3 linked regions of the Homo sapiens genome follow. The protein of the gene in region 2 interacts with the protein of the main gene of each other region in a biochemical or structural test. Each region holds a gene or a part of one and is shown on either strand. Other genes may lie near its edges.

What was found. Proteins that work in one complex are often made in the same cells at the same time.
Region 1: of the proteins of TEK (region 2) and CAV1, one has a biochemical effect on the other in vitro, tested with the Homo sapiens proteins (one study listed by BioGRID).
Region 3: the proteins of TEK (region 2) and ANGPT1 form a complex in vitro, tested with the Homo sapiens proteins (6 studies listed by BioGRID and IntAct, with this or other methods).

What each region holds. Positions count from the first base shown.
Region 1 is NC_000007.14:116,528,008-116,535,036, reverse strand, and holds part of CAV1 (caveolin-1), read right to left. Parts: intron 1-7,029. UniProt on the Homo sapiens protein: May act as a scaffolding protein within caveolar membranes. Forms a stable heterooligomeric complex with CAV2 that targets to lipid rafts and drives caveolae formation. Mediates the recruitment of CAVIN proteins (CAVIN1/2/3/4) to the caveolae.
Region 2 is NC_000009.12:27,168,223-27,175,251, reverse strand, and holds part of TEK (angiopoietin-1 receptor isoform 1 precursor), read right to left. Parts: intron 6,758-7,029; coding exon 6,647-6,757; intron 5,776-6,646; coding exon 5,623-5,775; intron 2,637-5,622; coding exon 2,505-2,636; intron 2,031-2,504; coding exon 1,890-2,030; intron 1-1,889. UniProt on the Homo sapiens protein: Tyrosine-protein kinase that acts as a cell-surface receptor for ANGPT1, ANGPT2 and ANGPT4 and regulates angiogenesis, endothelial cell survival, proliferation, migration, adhesion and cell spreading, reorganization of the actin cytoskeleton, but also maintenance of vascular quiescence.
Region 3 is NC_000008.11:107,249,918-107,256,946, reverse strand, and holds part of ANGPT1 (angiopoietin-1 isoform 1 precursor), read left to right. Parts: intron 1-294; exon of another isoform or gene 295-440; intron 441-3,098; exon of another isoform or gene 3,099-3,255; intron 3,256-3,777; exon of another isoform or gene 3,778-3,907; intron 3,908-4,931; coding exon 4,932-5,092; 3' UTR 5,093-7,029. UniProt on the Homo sapiens protein: Binds and activates TEK/TIE2 receptor by inducing its dimerization and tyrosine phosphorylation.

The DNA of each region.
Region 1 (7,029 bases), on a different chromosome or scaffold from region 2:
AGTTGGCTTTAAGCCCAAGTAGCCTGAAGGGATGGAGAACCATTGAGCAAGTTGATTTGGGAGCCCTCCACAGTGTTTCAAAACTCTCTGGCAGGGTTTTAAATGGCCTAACCCGCAAGTATTCTACTGGCAGGGAAAACATCTACAACTTTGCTGTGTATCTTATTTGCTCTCTTCAGGTAGAATCAACCAGGGTGTGTATCTTTTAGCCAACCTTGGGTACAGTCATTTCTAAATCTGACTTCACAGTGTAATCATTTGAAGAACGATCATTTGAAACTCTGAAAAATACAGATACTCAGGCTCCACCTCTAGATATTCTAATTTAATATATCTGGGCCGGGTGCAGTGGCTCACGCCTGTAATCCCAGCACTTTGAGAGGCCGAGGCGAGCGGATCACAAGGTCAGGAGATTGAGACCATCCTGGCTAACACGGTGACACCCTGTCTCTACTAAAAAATAGAAAAAATTAGCCAGCCGTGGTGGCGGGCGCCTGTAGTCCCAGCTACTTGGGAGGCTGAGGCAGGAGAATGGCGTGAACCCGGGAGACGGAGCTTGCAGTGAGCTGAGATCATGCCACTGCACTCCAGCCTGGGTGACAGAGCAAGACATCGTCTCAAAAAAAAAAAAAAAAAAAAAATATATATATATATATATATATATATATATATATCTGAGGTGGGCCCAGGCATCTGTATTTGTAAACATTCCTCTGATTCTTTTGACACCTCGCCAAATTTGATAGTGCTTTTGGGTTTATAAAGAGGCTATGGGGTTTTAAAAAGGCTGCAAATTTCAATTTTTATTTTTATTTTTTTGTGATGGAGTCTCACTCTGTCGCCCAGGCTGGAGTTCAGTGGCTTGATCTTGGCACACTGTAACTTCTGCCTCCCGGGTTAAAGCGATTCTCGTGCCTCAGCCACCAAAGTAGCTGGGACTACAGGTGCATGCCACCATGCCCAGCTAATCTTTTGTATTTTTAGTAGAGACAGGGTTTCACCATGTTGGCCAGGCTGGTCTCAAACTCCTGACCTCAGTTGATCCGCCTGCCTTGGCCTCCCAATCAATGTTTCAATAGGAGGATTAGAAGTTGAGAGCCAGTATGTGAGGAGAGGATATTAAAGAGGAATTGAAATATTTTCTACAATTTAATTACAATTTTTTATGAGACCAAAACAGAAGTAAATTGCCTAAAAATATATATTCCTATTTTGCCTTGTTTATTTGCCCAGAAACAATTTTAAGGTTTATAAATGACGTGTTGTTTGGACTAAAGATATAAAGATAGAAGATTTTAACAGACAGTAGAATTTGGTAAAGGAATCCATCAAAAGTTTGTGAAGGAATCTGCATAAAGAAAGTCAAGGAGATAGCTACAAACTCTATGTAGGCAGCATTTATATCCTGGCTAAAACAATTAGCCGGGAATTGTGGCACATCCCTGTGGTCCCAGTTACTCAGGAGTTGCTTGAGCCCAGGAGGTTGAGGATACAGTGAGCCAAGATTGTGCCATTGCACTCCAGCCGGGGCAACAGAGCAAGATTTTGTCTCAAAAGAAATAAATAAATAAAGAAAAGAAACACAAAATAGTTTGCCCAAAATATTTTTGGGGCGTTCATTTTATTTTTATTTTATTTTATTTTATTTTATTTTATTTTATTTTATTTTATTTTATTTTATTTTATTTATTTTATTTTTTGAGACGGAGTCTCGCTGTGTCACCAGGCTGGAGTGCAGTGGCGCAATCTTGGCTCACTGCAATCTTGGCCTCCTGGGTTCAAGCCATTCTCCTGCCTCAGCTTCCCCAGTAGCTGGGATTAAACACGCGCTACCACACCCAGCTAATTTTTGTATTTTTCATAGAGATGGGGTTTCACCGTGTTGGCCAGGATGATCTTGCTCTCCTAACCTCATGATCCACCAATCTTGAGCTCCCAAAGTGCTGGGATTACAGGAGTGAGTCACTGCGCCCAGCCTTTTTGGGGCATTTATTAACTGCTTTTAGACAAACAATTTTGCTCCCTACATATAAGCTCAAATCTCGTGGACTACTGAGGAAGATAAACCTATGGGCCTAATATTTTCCGTCCCTTCTTCCTCCTTGGTGTCCAGTGGGACTAGAACGCTTTCCAGTTGAAAGAGATCATGAAAGCATTAGGCCATTATGCTGAAACCACACCTGATCTGATTACTTCATGCATGCCTTTTCCTGACTGCTAAAGAAAAAGAATTTTGTGTCGGTCTTTACTTTAGAATCACCACATTCAAGTTTTAGAGAAGACAGTTACAAAAGTTGCAAATATTTGTTTTCTAATCTTGGCACAATCCTCTTGCACTACAACAGGTTGCCTCTGAGCATCTATGTGTTAGGCATAATTTCTAGGGGCTGAGAGTGTCTTTTTTAGAAAGTTGTTTTAAAACAAGTATAGTTTGCAAATCTTTTTCTCTAGGGCCTCAGATTATGGTAAAGAAGATACTAAATATGCAAGGTCTCCAGGGTGTGGAAGAAGAGTGTGTGTATCTTGGAATAAACCATCTTTGTATAAAGACAGCAGCCCTCAACTTTCCCCACAGCCAGGGGGATTATGGAAGGTCCAACCCCGCAGGTGAGCGCACATAGCCCTGTCCTCTTAGAGACCAGCTGTTTCTGGTCATTCCATCACAAAGAGTTATGTTTAAAAGTAGGGCAAACTAAAAAGCAGTTTCATTTGGAATATGAAAGTGTCTGTTATTTTATGGACTTGAGTGGGCAGGATACATAAACAGGTGGTTTTTCAAATTACTGGACTTTCCAGATGCAGCTCACTATTGCAGCTGTTCCTACTTTGAACCCCTTAAAAGTGTAGCCAACCCTGCCGTTAACTGAAAGAATATCCCACATCATGAAGCTTTTCATAATTCAAGGGTACTTGGTGCACCTTGCCTTAAATTTTAATAAATAATATGAAATCATGTTCAGTTAAAACCGAAGTTTTTTGATTGCAGTTAATAGATGGAGGAGGGAAAAGACTCTTTTAGTAAGCATTTAAAATGTATGTAATTTTGGGTTGAACCTGAAAGCATTTCATATGCTTAAGAATGAATAATAGCTGCCATTTTGGTATCATCCTTTGCTCAGTATTCTGAGAACAATTTCCCACTAAAGATGATCATAATGCAATTTTACAAGCTGGGGATTCTGAATTCCACGCATGACTTCATACATGGTAGAATATCAATCACCAACTTGTGAAGCTATCTCCTAAACAAATACACAAGCAAAACTAATACTAATGCCAACAGAAAAAGATATTAACATGGTGCCGAGACAATCTGATCTTTTAAACCTAATGCTAGACAACGAGTTAGTGGGTGCAGCGCACCAGCATGGCACATGTATACATATGTAACTAACCTGCACATTGTGCACATGTACCCTAAAACTTAAAGTATAATAATAATAATAAAAATAAATCTTATGCTTTGATTAGATGTATATCAAATAAATAATAATTTTATAAATGACTGTTATACTGATATTAATCACCAATTGCTCTAGAATGCTTTCAAGTTGAAAGGGATCACGGAGGCATTAAACCTTTGTACTATAACCAAAACTGATCTGATTATCACCTGCGTGCATTTTCTTGACTGTTAAAGAAAAATTTGTGTCTGTGCATATTTAAGAATCATTACATTCCAATTTTAGAAAAGCAAGTTATGAATGCATATTTCTGTTTTTCAACAAAGACCTCCTTTCAGATATCCTGATTTGTCTCAGTGCTAACAGAATCATCTAAACACATTTTTCCTCTCATGACAATAGTCCATGGTGAATCACATAATCTTATCTATTCTTCTTTAATGATACATTTCAAAATATTCACTTTGGGCAGTAACTATGTAAAAAGATGGATAACATTTTAAACTTGTTAGCCCTTAATTTCTATTAATATTACAAAAGAGGAATTGGAGGCCAGCCTGGTAACCATGATGATCCCTTCAAATTCTAAAATTCTGTCATTTTGTGCATGTATGTTTCGATCCACAATGCCACTTCGCATTGTCTTCATTTCACATCTGGACCATGATGCAATTACATCTGAACTCTTTTCTGCTCAACTAGACTGGCTACTTTTCATTACCTTCTGTACCTTCACCAGAGTCATTTTACAAAAACGTCACCTTCATTATACCACACCGATGCTTGCAGTCATTTATGGCTGTCCACTGTTGACATGATGTCCAAACTTATCATGAGTGCTGGATTTACAGACTCCGCATTTTACTATGATCAGTCTTTTCACCTTTATCACCTACCACTCTGCCACATGAAATCTCAAATCCCAGTCTGATTGAGCTACTACAACTCCCTTGTGGGAGACATTCTTGTCTCCATGCCTGGCTCGTTTAGAATGCCTTCCTGTGCTTTTGCCCCAGCTATTTGCAATCCATCTGTCCTCCATGACCCAATTCAAACTGCACCTCCTTCATACCATTCTCCATTAAACCAGCTGCAATACATCCTCCTTCTCTGACCCTGCTATCCTTTTCATGGCTGGGTCTCCCTAACACTTCATATTGATACCATTCCCTATTTAAAAACCTTTTTGTTATGCAATATTCAACACTACTGTATTTACTTTTGATTCCTTATCATATATATTATATTTGGTCTGTTTCCAAAATGATGAGAAGGCTTACAGTAGAGATCACATAAGACAGTATGTCAGTTAAAAGGGGGAAGTGAAAATACAGAACCATATGTGGGAACATGAATTAATGAAACTTAAAATCCAGCTATAGATTTGAAACTGCTTCCTGGCAGTCAAGGCAAAAAAAAAAAAAGGAAAAAGGACCAATCAGTTTCCATGTAGCAGTGACTTACTGTTTTGGTTGTATGTATGTATTTTTTAAAAACACTTTTTACCTGTGTGCATGTCGTCTCACTAACTGTAATCTTTGTGATTGCTAGGATTTATTGTAGGAATTACATAGCAAAGCATCTAATCTAGCATATTGCATGGGTTTAATAAATAAATTAATTGATGGCTAATTTTATCAGAATTATAGATTTGAAGCCATTTTATTTATCTAGAAAATCAAAATAAGTACATAATAAACATGTGAATAACAATGTGAACAAAAGATGACACAGAAATCTCAGAGGGAGAATGAAGGGTTTGAGTTTGTGACCACTTTAATTAAAGGAAATTTTAAAAAGTATTCACAAGCTACTTAATATTTTTGGGTAAATGTCTATATTTGGGTAAATTGTCTCATAATGTGGAGCAGCAAGCTTTTAGTAAGATGAGAAATTAATTTTATTGGAACTGGATTGTATACTATAATGTGTGTCATTATTACTAGTAAAATAGGTAATAATGCTGCACCTTCTTGAATATAAACTCATGCCACACATGAGTTTTCTTTCCTCTCCAGAAATGAAACTGGGGTTTCATTTCTTCTCTAGAGTTTTGTTGTTGTTTTCTTTAACTTGGCAAGGGGATGCTTTTACAATGCAGAGAACACCCTAATCTGGCACTGTCCAATAGAGATTTCTGTGCTGATGGAAATGTTCTATGTCTGTGCCACTAGCTTTACCTGTTGCACACTCACAACGTGGCTAGTGTGACTAAGGAACTGAATTTTAAATTTTACTTGATATTAATTACTTGAAATTTAAATGGAAACACAAATGGCTAGTGATTACCATATTGGACAGAGCAGCTTTTACAGGGCTGCTTGCTTTTAGGACCAACTTTTCCTTACTTGATTGGGTACCTTTAACAGTAGATTCCATTGGCCACTGGTTCTTTCTTATTATGTGAAGTTTTAAGCTACCATGCATTAGCAGTAAAGCTTTGGGTGCTTTTAAGAAGCACCCAAAATTATTGTCATGATTTTTTTAAGAAGTCTGTGTTGTTGGCCAGGTGTAGTGGCTCACATCTGTAATCCCAACACTTTGGGAGGCCAAGACCAGTGGATCACTTGAGGTCAGGAGTTCAAGACCAGCCTGGCCAACATGGTGAAACCCCGTCTCCACTAAAAATACAAATATTAACCCGGCATGGTGGCGTGCACTTGTAGTCCCAGCTACTCAGGAGGCTGAGACAGAAGAATTGCTTGAACCTGGGAGGTGGAGGTTGCAGTGATCCCAGATCATGCCACTGCACTCCAGCCTGGGTGACAGAGTGAGACTCCGTCTCAAAAAATAAATAAATAAATAAATAAAAATAAAAATAAAAAAAGTCTATGTTGTTGAAAGTAAAATTTAGGGAAATTTATTATTTACTGTCATGGAAACTGGGAGAGAATCATCCCTGTTTCTGTTATTTTGTTTGTGCTTGGACTTGAGGATACATATTTATAAAATAGGAGTCTCCATAAGATGTAGATAGGACCCTGTTCATCGGCCAGGCACTCTTTGGGCAGAATTTGCATTTGTAGTCTTGGTGTCTCTCTGTAGGGCATTCTCTGAAGTCCCCTCTAGGCCAGGCATCTGAGTGAGACTGCCAAATTCTTTTCTAGGTGGATTTTTTGGTTTGACTGTCTTGTTTTGCTCACAGTTCTATGAGCAAGTAGTCAGGGTTTGGTTTCTTTAGGCTAGCAGGAGCTTGCTCTAGCTTTTTCTTTTAATTTCTTTAATTTGAGGATCCCCACACTTGCTCTTTGAAATGCTGTTTTGTAAACTGCTATTTCCTCCAAGCCTGTTATGTTTTTTTTCCATCTGTGTTGAAGTCTCTTTTCCCAGTGGGGCCTTTCTTTCTCAACTTAGTCATGCTATGTGTGGAGACCCACATCCACACTGTTGGCCTCTCTGACTCATCCCGGGAGATTCGCTTGCTCCAGGGAATCTCACTCACAGTGCAGTGGAACAACAGGGAGGATCCAGTGAAGCCAGCCCTCTCTGAAATCTGCCTCTTTTCCTGGCAACTCTCCTTCTTGTTCAAAGCCACATGAGAAGGGTGGGGGTGGGGGAAAACACAAATATCCTCTCCCTTTAAGGTAATGTTTTTAGTAAATAGTTTTTTAGCAATTCTATTTTC
Region 2 (7,029 bases):
GACAAAAAACCAAACACCGTATGTTCTCACTCATAGATGGGAATTGAACAGTGAGAACACATGAACACAGGAAGGGGAACATCACACTCTGGGGACTGTTGTGGGGTGGGGGGAGGGGGGAGGGATAGCATTAGGAGATATACCTAATGCTAAATGACGAGTTGATGGGTGCAGCACACCAGCATGGCACATGTATACATATGTAACTAACCTGCACATTGTGCACATGTACCCTAAAACTTACAGTATAATAATAATAATAATAATAAAAAGAATTAAAAAAAAAACAAAAAAACCTGGGCCCAGAGACACATTCACTACAAAGCTGATGAAGTTTATGTTCTAGAGACTGCTGGCATGCACCGCTTCCTGGGTCCTAGCAAAGTGTTCATAGTTTGCGTAACATTTTAATTTTTTTTAAAATACAAGGGATCTGCCCCCTGCCTGGAGTCACCTTTTACCTTAACATACACACTTCAGAGGCCAGATGGGATTTCTCCACTGCTGTGGCTCACTGCATGTTCCGGGGGGCAGACATAGCATTTAGAGGGAACTGAATGAGGTATTGCAGGTGGCTGAAGCTTACTTTTGTGTAACTCTCCTCTTTGTCCTCCTCCTCCAAGCCCCTGGAGCTATGCTGTCCAGTACAGTTAGCCACGTGTGGCTATGGAACTCTTAAAATATAGCTAGTCCAAACTGAAATTTCAAAGACTTACTATGAAAAAGGGAATGTAAAATATCTCATTAATACTTTTTTCTATTGATTACATGTTGAACTGATAATGTTTTTAACATATTGGGTTAATAGATCAAAATTATTTCACCTATTTCTCCTCACTTTTTTAATGTGGACACTAGAAAATTTTAAATTCTATATGTGGATGGCTTATATTTCTACTGAACTGCTCTGCCCTGGAGCATTGTTATCAAGTTGCTGGGACCCCATCGTAGCTACCTTTAGTGCCGGATATGGGAAAAGCTGACTTTGTGAGATAAACACTGAAAAGCCTTTGAGCTCTGGCTAATTCACAGTATTAATATACATTAGGGAGGTTCTGTCACATTTGTCTGCAGGTTCATGTTGAGCTACTATGCAACAGTAGATGTGAAATGCATACTGAAAAGTGGATGTCAGATGCACTCCACAGAGCCTGGTCAAATGGGAAAGCTTATTTTACAAAGGGCAGAGGGACTCTGAGTAGATGATGTTAGTACTACTTGCATAAGGTCCACGGCAGGTAAGATTTTAACTTCTTCAATTTTTGAGCCCCAAATCCTGTCTGGATCTGACATAAAAGCTCTGATTTTGATTTTTTTTTTTTTAAACGAGGTCTCACTCTGTTGCCCAGGCTGGAGTGTAGTGGTGCAATCATAGCTCACTGCAGCTTCAAACTCCTGGGCTCAAGGGATCCTCCTGCCTCAGCCTCCTGAATAACTGGGACAACAGGCATGTGCTACCATGCCTGGCTAAAGCTGTGATTTTATGATTCACTGAAAAAAAAAAAAAAAAAAAACCAAAAAAAAAAAACAAGTCTTCTATGGTCTTCCTACTCAAAGCATGGTCTGAAAACCAGTAACATCGGAACTACTTGGGAGCCTGTTAGAAATGCAGAACCTCGGGCCCCAGTCCATGCCTACCAAATCAGAATCCGTGCTTTAGTAAAGATCCCCAGATGATAGTTATGAGAAGTACTTTCTATGCGGTCTAGATTTTTACTGTGAAAGTATAATTAACATTGGATGTAAACATCCATGATTCAAAATCCTGTTGTCCAGTAGTGGGTAGCTAAGCAGTCCAGGTATATCCGATGTTGTGATTGACAGCAAACTGGATCTCCTTTATATACCTGCTAGAACATCCTCTGTCCAAGGGTGTGATTGGTGCATACCTTCATTGCACTGCAGACCCTTCCAGCCTGTGGCACAGGAACACCCATAGGGGTCAGGGAGACAGAACACATAAGACTTGCATCCCTCTTGTCCACTGCACCTTTCTTTACAAGTTCTGCCAAACGTGTGCAGTTCACAAGCTTTGGGAGGAAAAGAAAAGATGATTCAGAGTCAAATATGCAACCCCTTGAAATACATAATTCTTTAGATTCATTTCTCCTAGTCTAGTGAATATGGGAAACAGTCAAATCTCAGCTGTGGCATGGTAGGATGAACATACCCTTATGGCCCATTTTACTGATAATGAAACTGCCCCACAGAGCAGACATCAGGGACATCACTCACAATCATGCAGGTTTGTGCAGTGCACAAACCTAGGGGGCAGCATTCACACTGTAAACATCACGGATCTGTATATTTATTATAACTTTCCAGTGGTTGGCATTAAAGAACCTTTAGGAAAAGGCACCTTTTTCTAATTCACACACAGGTACCATCTGACCTAACAGAGGCCATTTAGCGTCCATTCCCATCTGTGTCGAGATCTAAAATTCTAGATCCAGCAACGATGGCTTTTTAAATCCACAGCTTACTTATCAAGTCTCTTTACTTACCCTTCTCACACGTCCTTCCCATAAACCCAGGAGGGCAAATGCATTCTCCAGTATCTTCATGGCAGACACCATTGTTCATACAAGCAGTACAGAGATGGTTGCATTCAGGTCCCCACTTCTGGGCTTCACATCCTTTTGTTAAGGAAAACAAGGCTGTGGTGAGTAGAGCGCATTCGCTCAACACATCTTTATTGAGCACCTACTGTGTGTCAGTCATTCAGTGGACAATGGTGAATAAAGATAAAATACAGGCTCTGCTCTCTAAAAGCTCATCATCTAATATGGGAGACAGACATGTAAACAGGAAATCGCGACAGAAACAAAGACAAGGAGTACCTAACTCTGTCTGGTGGATAGAAGAGGGCATAAAGGAAGGCTTCCCAGAGGATATGGTATGCAAGCTGAATCTGCAGGACCAACTAAGTAGCAAAGAAGATAAGGCTGGAGAGTGTCTTCCAGGCAAAGACAAGGCATGGGAAGACAGCATGGCATGTCCAGGGAGCTGCAGGTATGGTTACAGGCTGGAGCTGTGGTTTTCAAAGTGTGGTCTCTGACCAGTAGCATCCCCATCATCTGGGAATCTGTTAGAAATGCAAACCCCAGATCCCACCCAACCACGACCTACTGAATGAGAAATTCTAGAAGTGGCGTAGTAATCTGTGCACATTGGTGTCAGAAGTGTTGTGTTCAGTGAGAGCAGAGATTAGGAAAAACACTTTGGTTTTCCTATCTCAAACAACTATATATCAACATGTATAGGTATGTCTGACCTTCCTAGAAGATGTACCCCATTTACCCTCTGAGTACACCTAGTACATGGTGTTATATCAGACTCCAGAGAAACTAGCTAAATGAAATAAAGGCAAATTGCTTCCTTGACATTCAGACTCTCCTGAGTAGTGGAATAAAAGGGGATGTCACTTGCTTCTCCCAAGTCCACAGAAACTTCATGTAAAGGTAGCTGTGAGGCAAGCTACTAGAAGCTGAATATTGCAGTTTTGCTATCATCATAAATTATATTTTTTAAGATTCATATTACAAAAAGGCTGCTCTGACATTTAATAGAAGTCAAGCACAGTAGTCATCCAGAAGGAAATAGGTCTTGGGTACGTGGAAAGATTCCCCTCGACTCAAGCCCAAATAGTCCTGCCTATAAAACACCTTGCTATATTTTATGTCCATAGAGGTGGCTAAGCATGGAGCATAAACTAGAGGAACCACACTTCTCATACTTCTATTGTCATTTTTCAATATTTATTTAGCTAATTATACACGTGCCTACTCTGATTGGGAATGACCCAAAGGACACGGATTTATCTTATGATCCTGTATTCTCAACACCAACACAATTCTTGGCACAGAGTTATGACCAACACATTTTGGTAAATGAATGGGGGAACATAACGCAAAGCAAATGAATTGGAGATGGCAATCGTTAGAGGAATGACAGAGAAGCCCAGGCATTTAGACCTGAAGACTTCAATATTTAATATTATGAAAACCTGATCTAGCTGGGGAAAATTCAGGGCAAATCATTTTCTTTCTATTTGTGAAGTTCCTGTAAAAATTACAGGAAAATGTAATGGTGATATTTATGCCCCCACTTCAATAGTTATAATGGAGAAAAAAAGTTTTTACTAGTTCTAACTCTTACATTTTTCAAAACTGAAAATAAAAATCACACATAAGAGTTAAATGACCTGGGAAGTGTGGGATTTACAGGAGGCAATGTTTAAGCAGATGTTAGTCTAACCCAAGAGGTCCAACTCATCCCCCTAGAGCAGACACGTTTCAGTGAGACTGCTTTACTCGTTGTGATCCCCCTTTTTATATGGATGATTATGCTGTACAAATGTGAGCTTCTAGTGCCTGTAACGTGTAGTACGTGACTCCACCCTTGTCTATAGCTCACTGGTCTAGGCTGATAGACATCTAATATATGTTAGGCCAATCTGATTATTTATCCTGGAAATTCAAAATTTGGAAGTGAAAGAAACATTGCTGAAGCTGAGACATGGTAAAAGCAGCATCTTAGAGAGAAAGCCCACTCCCTTACCTCCCCACACCCACCACAACTGAGCCTCAGCTCTTCCTTGAAGCTTATCTTTTCTGGAACTTGCTTTATAGTTTTTGTTTTTGTTTTTGAGACAAGGTCTTGCTCTTTCAACCAGCCTGGCCCACTGCAGCCTCGACCTCCCGAGCTTGAACTATCCTCCCACCTCAACCTGTCAAATAGCTAGAACTACAGGCATGCATCACCATGCCTGGCTAATTTTTGTATTTTTTGTAGAGACGGGGTTTTGCCATGTTGCCCAGGCTGGTCTCAAACTCTTGAGCTCAAAGGGCCTCTCAAAGTGCTGAGATTACAGGCATGAGCCACCGTACCCAGCCACTTTTCAGCTTTCCCATCAGTTTATTAAGAGTCCTTAGTGTCCCCGTCTGGTATGGTTTGGCTGTGTCCCTACCCAAATCTCATCTTGAATTGTAGTTCCCATAATCCCCACGTGTTGTGGGAGGAACCCAGTAGGAGGTAAGAGGTCATTTAATCATGGAGGCAGTTGCCCTCATGCTGTTCACATGATAGTGAGTGAGTTCTCATGAGATTTGATGGTTTAATATGGTGCTTCCCCCTCTCCTTCACTCTCATTCTTCTCTCTCCTGCCGCCATGTGAAGAAGGATGTGTTTGCTTCCTCTTTTGCCATGATTGTAAATTTCCTGATGTCTCCCCAGCCATATTGAACTGTGAGTCAATTAAACCTCTTCCCTTAATAAATTACCCAGTCTCAGGTATGTCTCAATAAAGAGCATGTGAAATTAGAAATGATTTGCCCTGAGAAAAGAAAATGATTTGCCCTGAGTTTTCCCCAGCTGTATCAAGTATTTGTAATATTAAATATTTAAGTCTTCAGGTCTAAATACCTGGGTTTCTCTGTCATTCCTCTAATGATTGCTATCTCTTATTCATTTGCTTTGCAGCATAAGAACAGACTAATACAACCTCCAACCAATGCCTGGTTTTTGCTTAAGAAGCCATGGTTAGTTTCTGTTATTTGCAACTAAAAATCCTAACAACCTAACAACTACACCATCACAAATGGTGGCCTCTCCATCACTTACTCCGGACTATCAGCCTGGTGAAGGCCGAGGTGAAGAGGTTTCCTCCTATATACCTGGCCGAGTACACTCCAGCATCCTGGGGCTGAGCATGAGGCAGGTGTACTTCTAGAATATCAGGTACTTCATGCCGGGGCACTGAATGGATGAAGGAACCTAGTAAGAGGGAAGAGTGAAGAACCGTAGGTCACACTGAAACATACCTGCTTCCTTGTCTGGTTTCTCCACTTAATTAGCTTTCCCTGACATGGTCAAGAAAATGTGCTCTCACATATTGGATGTGGGAGAAGAATGAAAATGCTGAACTATTCAGTACTCTCTCAATAGTCAAGAAAGTCATAGTGATAGAACAGATAGGTTAGTCTGTGGGATCTACCACCAAACACATGAAGATGGGGGTGGTCTAAGTTCTTACATTCTACAGGGAGAGGCGAACATAGTTGGCAGGCAAAGTTAGGTGAAAAATGATAGGTAACCCTGTCAACTAACCAATTAACCAGGAGATATCTATAATCGCTACTCCAATCTGGAAGTCCTATCCACTCACAGACTTCAGAATGATCCCCATCAATATTCCAGCTGGATCAGGCAACTGACACTGGGTGGTACGAAACCATAGCTAGGACCTAGACACATTTGGATTACACAGTTGGACTGCCAGAACTGCTAACAATTGGCTTCCCATGTTTACTGTGGTAATTTCCTAAACCTTGCAATCAACAATGTCACAATCAAAGAAACTCACACTTTATATGGCTGAAGTTGGGATCTCACATTATGATGGGGTTTTATTGTATGTACATACACCATGTACATTCATATATATGAATTCCACTTTAATATCCTTAAGTAACCAAATATGTCACCTAAGAGGGCTTCTATCATACACAGAATTTGAAAGCTTGCATCATAGCAGCTTTAATTCAAACATCTGCCCACAAGACCACAATAGGAAAATGATTCAATATGTTGTATGTTATCTGATATCTCACATCATACTGGGGAAAGCAATGAAACACATACTCACCATTTTTGTAAATCACTGCATCTTCTTCTTTAATCAATACCTTTTTGAAAGATATGTTCACGTTATCTCCCTTGTCCACAGTCATAGTTAAAGTAGCTGGTAGGAAGGAAGCTTTTAAAAGAGAGAAAACAAATACCAAAAATGGGATCACACATTTTCTCCAGGAGCAATTGAGCTTTGAGACTCAGAAAATGAGGGCTGGCACTTGCTAGGTGTCAGATGGTTTTTGGAAGGTGAAAAACAGTGGTGGCTAATGCGTTTTAACCTTTCTTAACATTATGTACCTTTCTAAGAATCTGATGAAAGGGATGGTCACTTCCTTTATAAGAGTGTAAATATATACAAACAATATGCCTATACACAATTTTTCTATTCAGTGGTTG
Region 3 (7,029 bases), on a different chromosome or scaffold from region 2:
AGGCGGAGGTTGCGGTGAGCCAAGATTGTGCCACTGCACTCCAGCCTGGGTGACAGAGTGAGACTCCATCTCAAAAAAAACAAAACAAAACAAAAAAAAAAACAGAACAAAACAAAACAAAAAAACATTTGAGACATTTTATCAGTTGTCCCAATAGCAGAGGGTAACTTTTTTTTCAATCCTTTGCTTGCATCATTGAGTTCTTTCAGGCTTGAAGTGCCTTCCCTAAATGAATTGCTCTAGGATATTTCTTATTTGTTATTCCCAAGCATAAACAAAATACAAAGTCAGTGTTTTCCCAGGATTGCACAGAATATATAATTCAGCTATTCAGAATCTTATCAGAGAGGAACTGTAAACTCAGGCATACTCTTCTGTATATTCATAGAACATCTTCATCCCATGCAGATTTACCATATGTACTGAGTATCTATGATCACCTGTAAATACAAGGAATGCATATGAGTAATGAGGAGTCTGCTATACTTTTGCCTGCATTGAAAAAATGCTTTAAACCACATATTTTCAGGATTTGTGTTTAAAAGACTTGGCCATGCTTAATTTTTAAAAATAAAGGTAGAAAGTGGACAAACTGTTTGAAATATTTGATACGAACAAATTATTTAGTTTGTTTTAATGTATATATCAAAGAAAACAGAGAATCCTTGCCTACACAGAAGTAATTACTTCTTCTACCTTGAAGTTAGGATATTTTATAATAAAACTGAAATTGTCATGAGAAATAATTGCTCTTTTATTTCATTTTCTTCCATCTTAATTCATCATCTTTATTATCAGTTGCTCTGAGATAGATCACAGAATTCATGGCCCACTAGTCTTAAGATAAAGAGTTAATTGAACATTTCAAACTCCTTGATTTGTCATGAAATCAAAATGAAACATTTAAAAAAATTAGGAACTTAAATGCCAAGTTTTTATAACATGAACATTGTACAGTTGTACTTATTTGGGTCTAATTATTTTCATATTTCTCTAATAAACCCCACTAAGCAAATAAGAAAATATGTTGGCACTGATGACCTTGTCTTTATTATTAAATTACTGTGATGCTCCACAAGGTCTTGTCTCTTTTTTTTCTGGCCTAAACATTCTGCCCCATTTTCTAGATAACTTACAGCTGGCACTTTAGTAGGATTTTACAGGCTGTAATAGTGCATTATCTTATTTGATTCTTATAACTGTGCTGTGAAAATGGTTGGTTAGCTCTTAGAATCTATGTATTATGAATGTGACCTTAAGCAGTTCCTTAAACTCTGTGAGCATTAGTATCTTTATTATGGTACTTGCCACATCACTTAAGGCTGTTTGGGGGATAAAATGAGAAAATGCATATAAATACCTTCATATGAACGATTCAATAAATATCAAATACTATTGGTACTATTGTGTAGGATCTCTTGGTTATTTATTGATGAAGTAAGCATGAAAAGTCTGGGTCTTCTAACTTCTGCTCCGGCGCTCTCCAGGCTTCCCATTGCCCAAAAGAAAATGTCTAAAGGTGTAATAAAAACCTTTATGTTTTCCCTCCTGTTTATTTTTTAGCCCTATATTCTCCAACCCTTTAACCCACTGGCACTCCAGCCAAGCCAACCTGCTGGCAGACACTCTCCCCTGGTCTTCCAGAGTACAGACTATATAGAAGCTCTTTCTGTCCAGTGAACTCATACCCATCTTTCAGGACCCAGAGCAGCTGTTGAATGAGTGAGCTTTGTGGTCCCTCAGACAGTTAGCACCTACTGCCTCTGTGTTTCCATCAAATTTTCTTCTTCTCTTAGTTTAACGGCTATCATCTCAATGTGTAGCATTTTGTTTGTCTCCTACACAAAACTGTGCATGCTTTAAAGTCAGAAATTTTGTTTCCAAAAATTTCTGTCCCCTATCCCTATCCATTGGTTAATATTTGCAGAATTGATTCTAGACTCAATTTTCTCCTTTTTTTTTTTAAGCTGTCACATATGCTCAGGATGGCTTTGGAAGATCGTAGAGAATGAGGACTCTAAACCATGTTTGATTAAACATTTAACCTAGCAGATCTGGTTCTTCTGGTTCGATTGTGGTTCCCATCTGTAGAGAATGTTTTACTTGTTTGCCTGATCATGGACAAGCAGGCTGGCTAAACTACAAATTGTTCCATAAACATTGAACTTCTCACCAGGACTGCCTATTCCTCCACCTTCATTTCCTGCAAGTCATTTCTTGTTTACTGTGCACCAGTTGCACTGATGTCCCTACACATCCCAAGCTTGTTTTCTTCCTCATCGCCTTTGCAGGTGCTGTATTCTGCTTAGCAGGGTCTTTTCCCATCTTCTTGGGGCTGTCTCTCTCCTCCTTCTGGTCTCGTTAAATATCAGCTTCTTTCACAAATGTGAAAAGTCAAGTTATTCTCCTTCAGAGCTCCTACGTATTTTCTTCATGACATTTTAAGTCATAATTTATATTAGGTTGGTGCAAAAGTAATTGCGTTTTTTGTCAATAACAGTCATGGCAAAAACCGCAGTTACTTTTGCACCAACCTAATAGTTATTTTATGTGCCTGCTTACATATATTCATCTGTTTCTCCCATTAGAAGTGAGTTTCATGAAGGCAAGGACTATGTCTGTCTTGAGTATTGTGTAACAACGTTTCACAATAATTATATATTGAATGGATACATAAAGAAAAAAATGAATACAATAAGGACAGGTGTTACATTTTGGGGTATCTATCAAATACAGCATTTTAGTAAGCTAAACAACTTCAGACAACAAAGACTTCACAAGGAGAACCAATCAGAGAGTCAATCAGTTAACAAGCCTGCAGTGACCCGCCGGTCATTTGGGAAGCAAACTTCGTTAGGTGTCCTACTAAGTACAGGAGATGGGCCAATATACAAACCATGGCTTTCCATTGTTTTTAGGATGATGAACAAAACACTGGGTGATTTGCTTCAGACCCACTTAGCTTCAGGTGACTATCCCCCTCGTTGATTGTGACCCAGCCATACTGGCCTTCCTTCAATGTCTCCAAAATGCCATTCTACTCATTGCAAACATTACCCCACTTTATTCCTTCAAAAAGCTACACAAGATCAATTTACCTGACTCTCTCACAGGCTCTTACTGTTTCTTGTCTCTTTCCTAAGTTTTCCCAAAGTTTCCCAATGAGCGTATCCTTTAGCCTGTGCTCTTTATTGCCAGGCTGTTGTTGCAACAGACGTCTGTCTTTCCGCACTCCTCTGGGACTCCTGTGACTTTCTATAAACCAAATAAACAAAAACACACATTTTACCCCAATGCAACTTGGAAGAGAATTCTATGAATCATTGTCAGTCTCAACAATAGAGTAAGTGTGTTTGCTTGAGAGACCATGGTGCATATTTGAAAGACTATAAAAAAGTTCATTAATGCAATGGAAAAGTGCTTCAAGAAGGTCACAGAAAAGGAGGAGAAAAGTTAAAAACAGAATCAATCAAGTTGAATTTCATCTTAGAGTTTTATTTTAGTCCTTTAGAAAGAGTCTTTTGGGCAAATAAATTCACTAATATTAGAATGCTTTTTATAATATAAACAGCATATTTAACAGCTGTACTGATCAAAAATTAGAAGAATTAATCTTAAGAAAAACAAAGGTAGGATTTTACTTGCAGTTCCTCCTTCTTTTCCAAACAAGAACCTTTTTGTCCCTCATGTTTTGACTACATTAACATTTATGTTGTTTGCATACAGTTGATAAAACTGCACGGAATATAATGTCTTTCCAAATTCATCAAGACATACCTTGTGGTTCCCCACTATGAACTGGTGATTAATGCAGCTTGTTACGCCTCTAGTGTGACTTTATAAACACAAGCCAGCTGTACTCATCTTCTAAAGTTGAAAAATGAGAACTAGCTTTTCTCCATTTGACTTCTTCTAAAGTTTCTGCAAGATTGTGCTCATGTTACAGTTAAACATCAGCTGTACAGCTTTCTCTTTCTTTAGCTATTAGTCCCTTAGGTATAAGTCTGTAATCAAAGAGAGGTCAACTGTATCCAAATAAAAAATATGCCAGAATGTCTCTGGCATAAATCTCTCCCTAAAGATTCAGTAGTGTTACTTCAGCAGACAGGAAAAAACACTATGCTTTATCTAAAAATCTAAGAACTTAATTTATTTAAAAAATAAAACTGACTTATCCAGTTATCCTTATAGAGAGCTATACAAGCATAGAATTTCCATGTTACTCATCAAGTTGTTTTTCTTTTTACTAAGTTTGGAAAGCACTTAAATAACCATAGACAAAATATGGCTGTACAGGAACTGAATGGCTACTATTGCTGAACACTTTTTCTACTGTTATAAACTACAGAGAGGGTACGTTAATTAAAAGCCCTTTTGAGCATCATAGTCATTGCACAGTATCCAATTAATTTTAGAAGCAGCTTAGGGCCAATTATTGACAAACATATGCAGTAGATGGAGAATATCTTTCTATTTAGATCTCAGTTGCTTGTCTAAGTTTCTGCATTTCTTCACTAATAATTAATTGTTCTATTCCCAATAACAGTCTTAAGATGGAATGCCTCTTATGGGTATATGCATTTTCCTTATTGCATTTGTCTTAAATGTAAATCCATCTCTTATGTAGATTGTATCTTGAAGCCCAGAGGCTTCCCATCATTACAAGAAGAAGTGAGTTCCAGTGGAGTCACACTGAAAGCTGCTTTCCATGAGAGCATTGCTGTCTGTGATGGGTCATACAAATCTTAAATCAGAAGTCATTTAAAACAGTTTCACTACTGGGAATATATTTACTGATGCCTCGTAATTGCAAATAAGCATAACAAGAACAAGCAAGTTTCCCATCATTTAATGCCATTAATTTCCAAATATTCCATTTACTTAAAATTGTTGCCTCTCCTTCTCTCTTCTATTATGAATTATTTTTTCAGGATGGTGGTTTGATGCTTGTGGCCCCTCCAATCTAAATGGAATGTTCTATACTGCGGGACAAAACCATGGAAAACTGAATGGGATAAAGTGGCACTACTTCAAAGGGCCCAGTTACTCCTTACGTTCCACAACTATGATGATTCGACCTTTAGATTTTTGAAAGCGCAATGTCAGAAGCGATTATGAAAGCAACAAAGAAATCCGGAGAAGCTGCCAGGTGAGAAACTGTTTGAAAACTTCAGAAGCAAACAATATTGTCTCCCTTCCAGCAATAAGTGGTAGTTATGTGAAGTCACCAAGGTTCTTGACCGTGAATCTGGAGCCGTTTGAGTTCACAAGAGTCTCTACTTGGGGTGACAGTGCTCACGTGGCTCGACTATAGAAAACTCCACTGACTGTCGGGCTTTAAAAAGGGAAGAAACTGCTGAGCTTGCTGTGCTTCAAACTACTACTGGACCTTATTTTGGAACTATGGTAGCCAGATGATAAATATGGTTAATTTCATGTAAAACAGAAAAAAAGAGTGAAAAAGAGAATATACATGAAGAATAGAAACAAGCCTGCCATAATCCTTTGGAAAAGATGTATTATACCAGTGAAAAGGTGTTATATCTATGCAAACCTACTAACAAATTATACTGTTGCACAATTTTGATAAAAATTTAGAACAGCATTGTCCTCTGAGTTGGTTAAATGTTAATGGATTTCAGAAGCCTAATTCCAGTATCATACTTACTAGTTGATTTCTGCTTACCCATCTTCAAATGAAAATTCCATTTTTGTAAGCCATAATGAACTGTAGTACATGGACAATAAGTGTGTGGTAGAAACAAACTCCATTACTCTGATTTTTGATACAGTTTTCAGAAAAAGAAATGAACATAATCAAGTAAGGATGTATGTGGTGAAAACTTACCACCCCCATACTATGGTTTTCATTTACTCTAAAAACTGATTGAATGATATATAAATATATTTATAGCCTGAGTAAAGTTAAAAGAATGTAAAATATATCATCAAGTTCTTAAAATAATATACATGCATTTAATATTTCCTTTGATATTATACAGGAAAGCAATATTTTGGAGTATGTTAAGTTGAAGTAAAAGCAAGTACTCTGGAGCAGTTCATTTTACAGTATCTACTTGCATGTGTATACATACATGTAACTTCATTATTTTAAAAATATTTTTAGAACTCCAATACTCACCCTGTTATGTCTTGCTAATTTAAATTTTGCTAATTAACTGAAACATGCTTACCAGATTCACACTGTTCCAGTGTCTATAAAAGAAACACTTTGAAGTCTATAAAAAATAAAATAATTATAAATATCATTGTACATAGCATGTTTATATCTGCAAAAAACCTAATAGCTAATTAATCTGGAATATGCAACATTGTCCTTAATTGATGCAAATAACACAAATGCTCAAAGAAATCTACTATATCCCTTAATGAAATACATCATTCTTCATATATTTCTCCTTCAGTCCATTCCCTTAGGCAATTTTTAATTTTTAAAAATTATTATCAGGGGAGAAAAATTGGCAAAACTATTATATGTAAGGGAAATATATACAAAAAGAAAATTAATCATAGTCACCTGACTAAGAAATTCTGACTGCTAGTTGCCATAAATAACTCAATGGAAATATTCCTATGGGATAATGTATTTTAAGTGAATTTTTGGGGTGCTTGAAGTTACTGCATTATTTTATCAAGAAGTCTTCTCTGCCTGTAAGTGTCCAAGGTTATGACAGTAAACAGTTTTTATTAAAACATGAGTCACTATGGGATGAGAAAATTGAAATAAAGCTACTGGGCCTCCTCTCATAAAAGAGACAGTTGTTGGCAAGGTAGCAATACCAGTTTCAAACTTGGTGACTTGATCCACTATGCCTTAATGGTTTCCTCCATTTGAGAAAATAAAGCTATTCACATTGTTAAGAAAAATACTTTTTAAAGTTTACCATCAAGTCTTTTTTATATTTATGTGTCTGTATTCTACCCCTTTTTGCCTTACAAGTGATATTTGCAGGTATTATACCATTTTTCTATTCTTGGTGGCTTCTTCATAGCAGGTAAGCCTCTCCT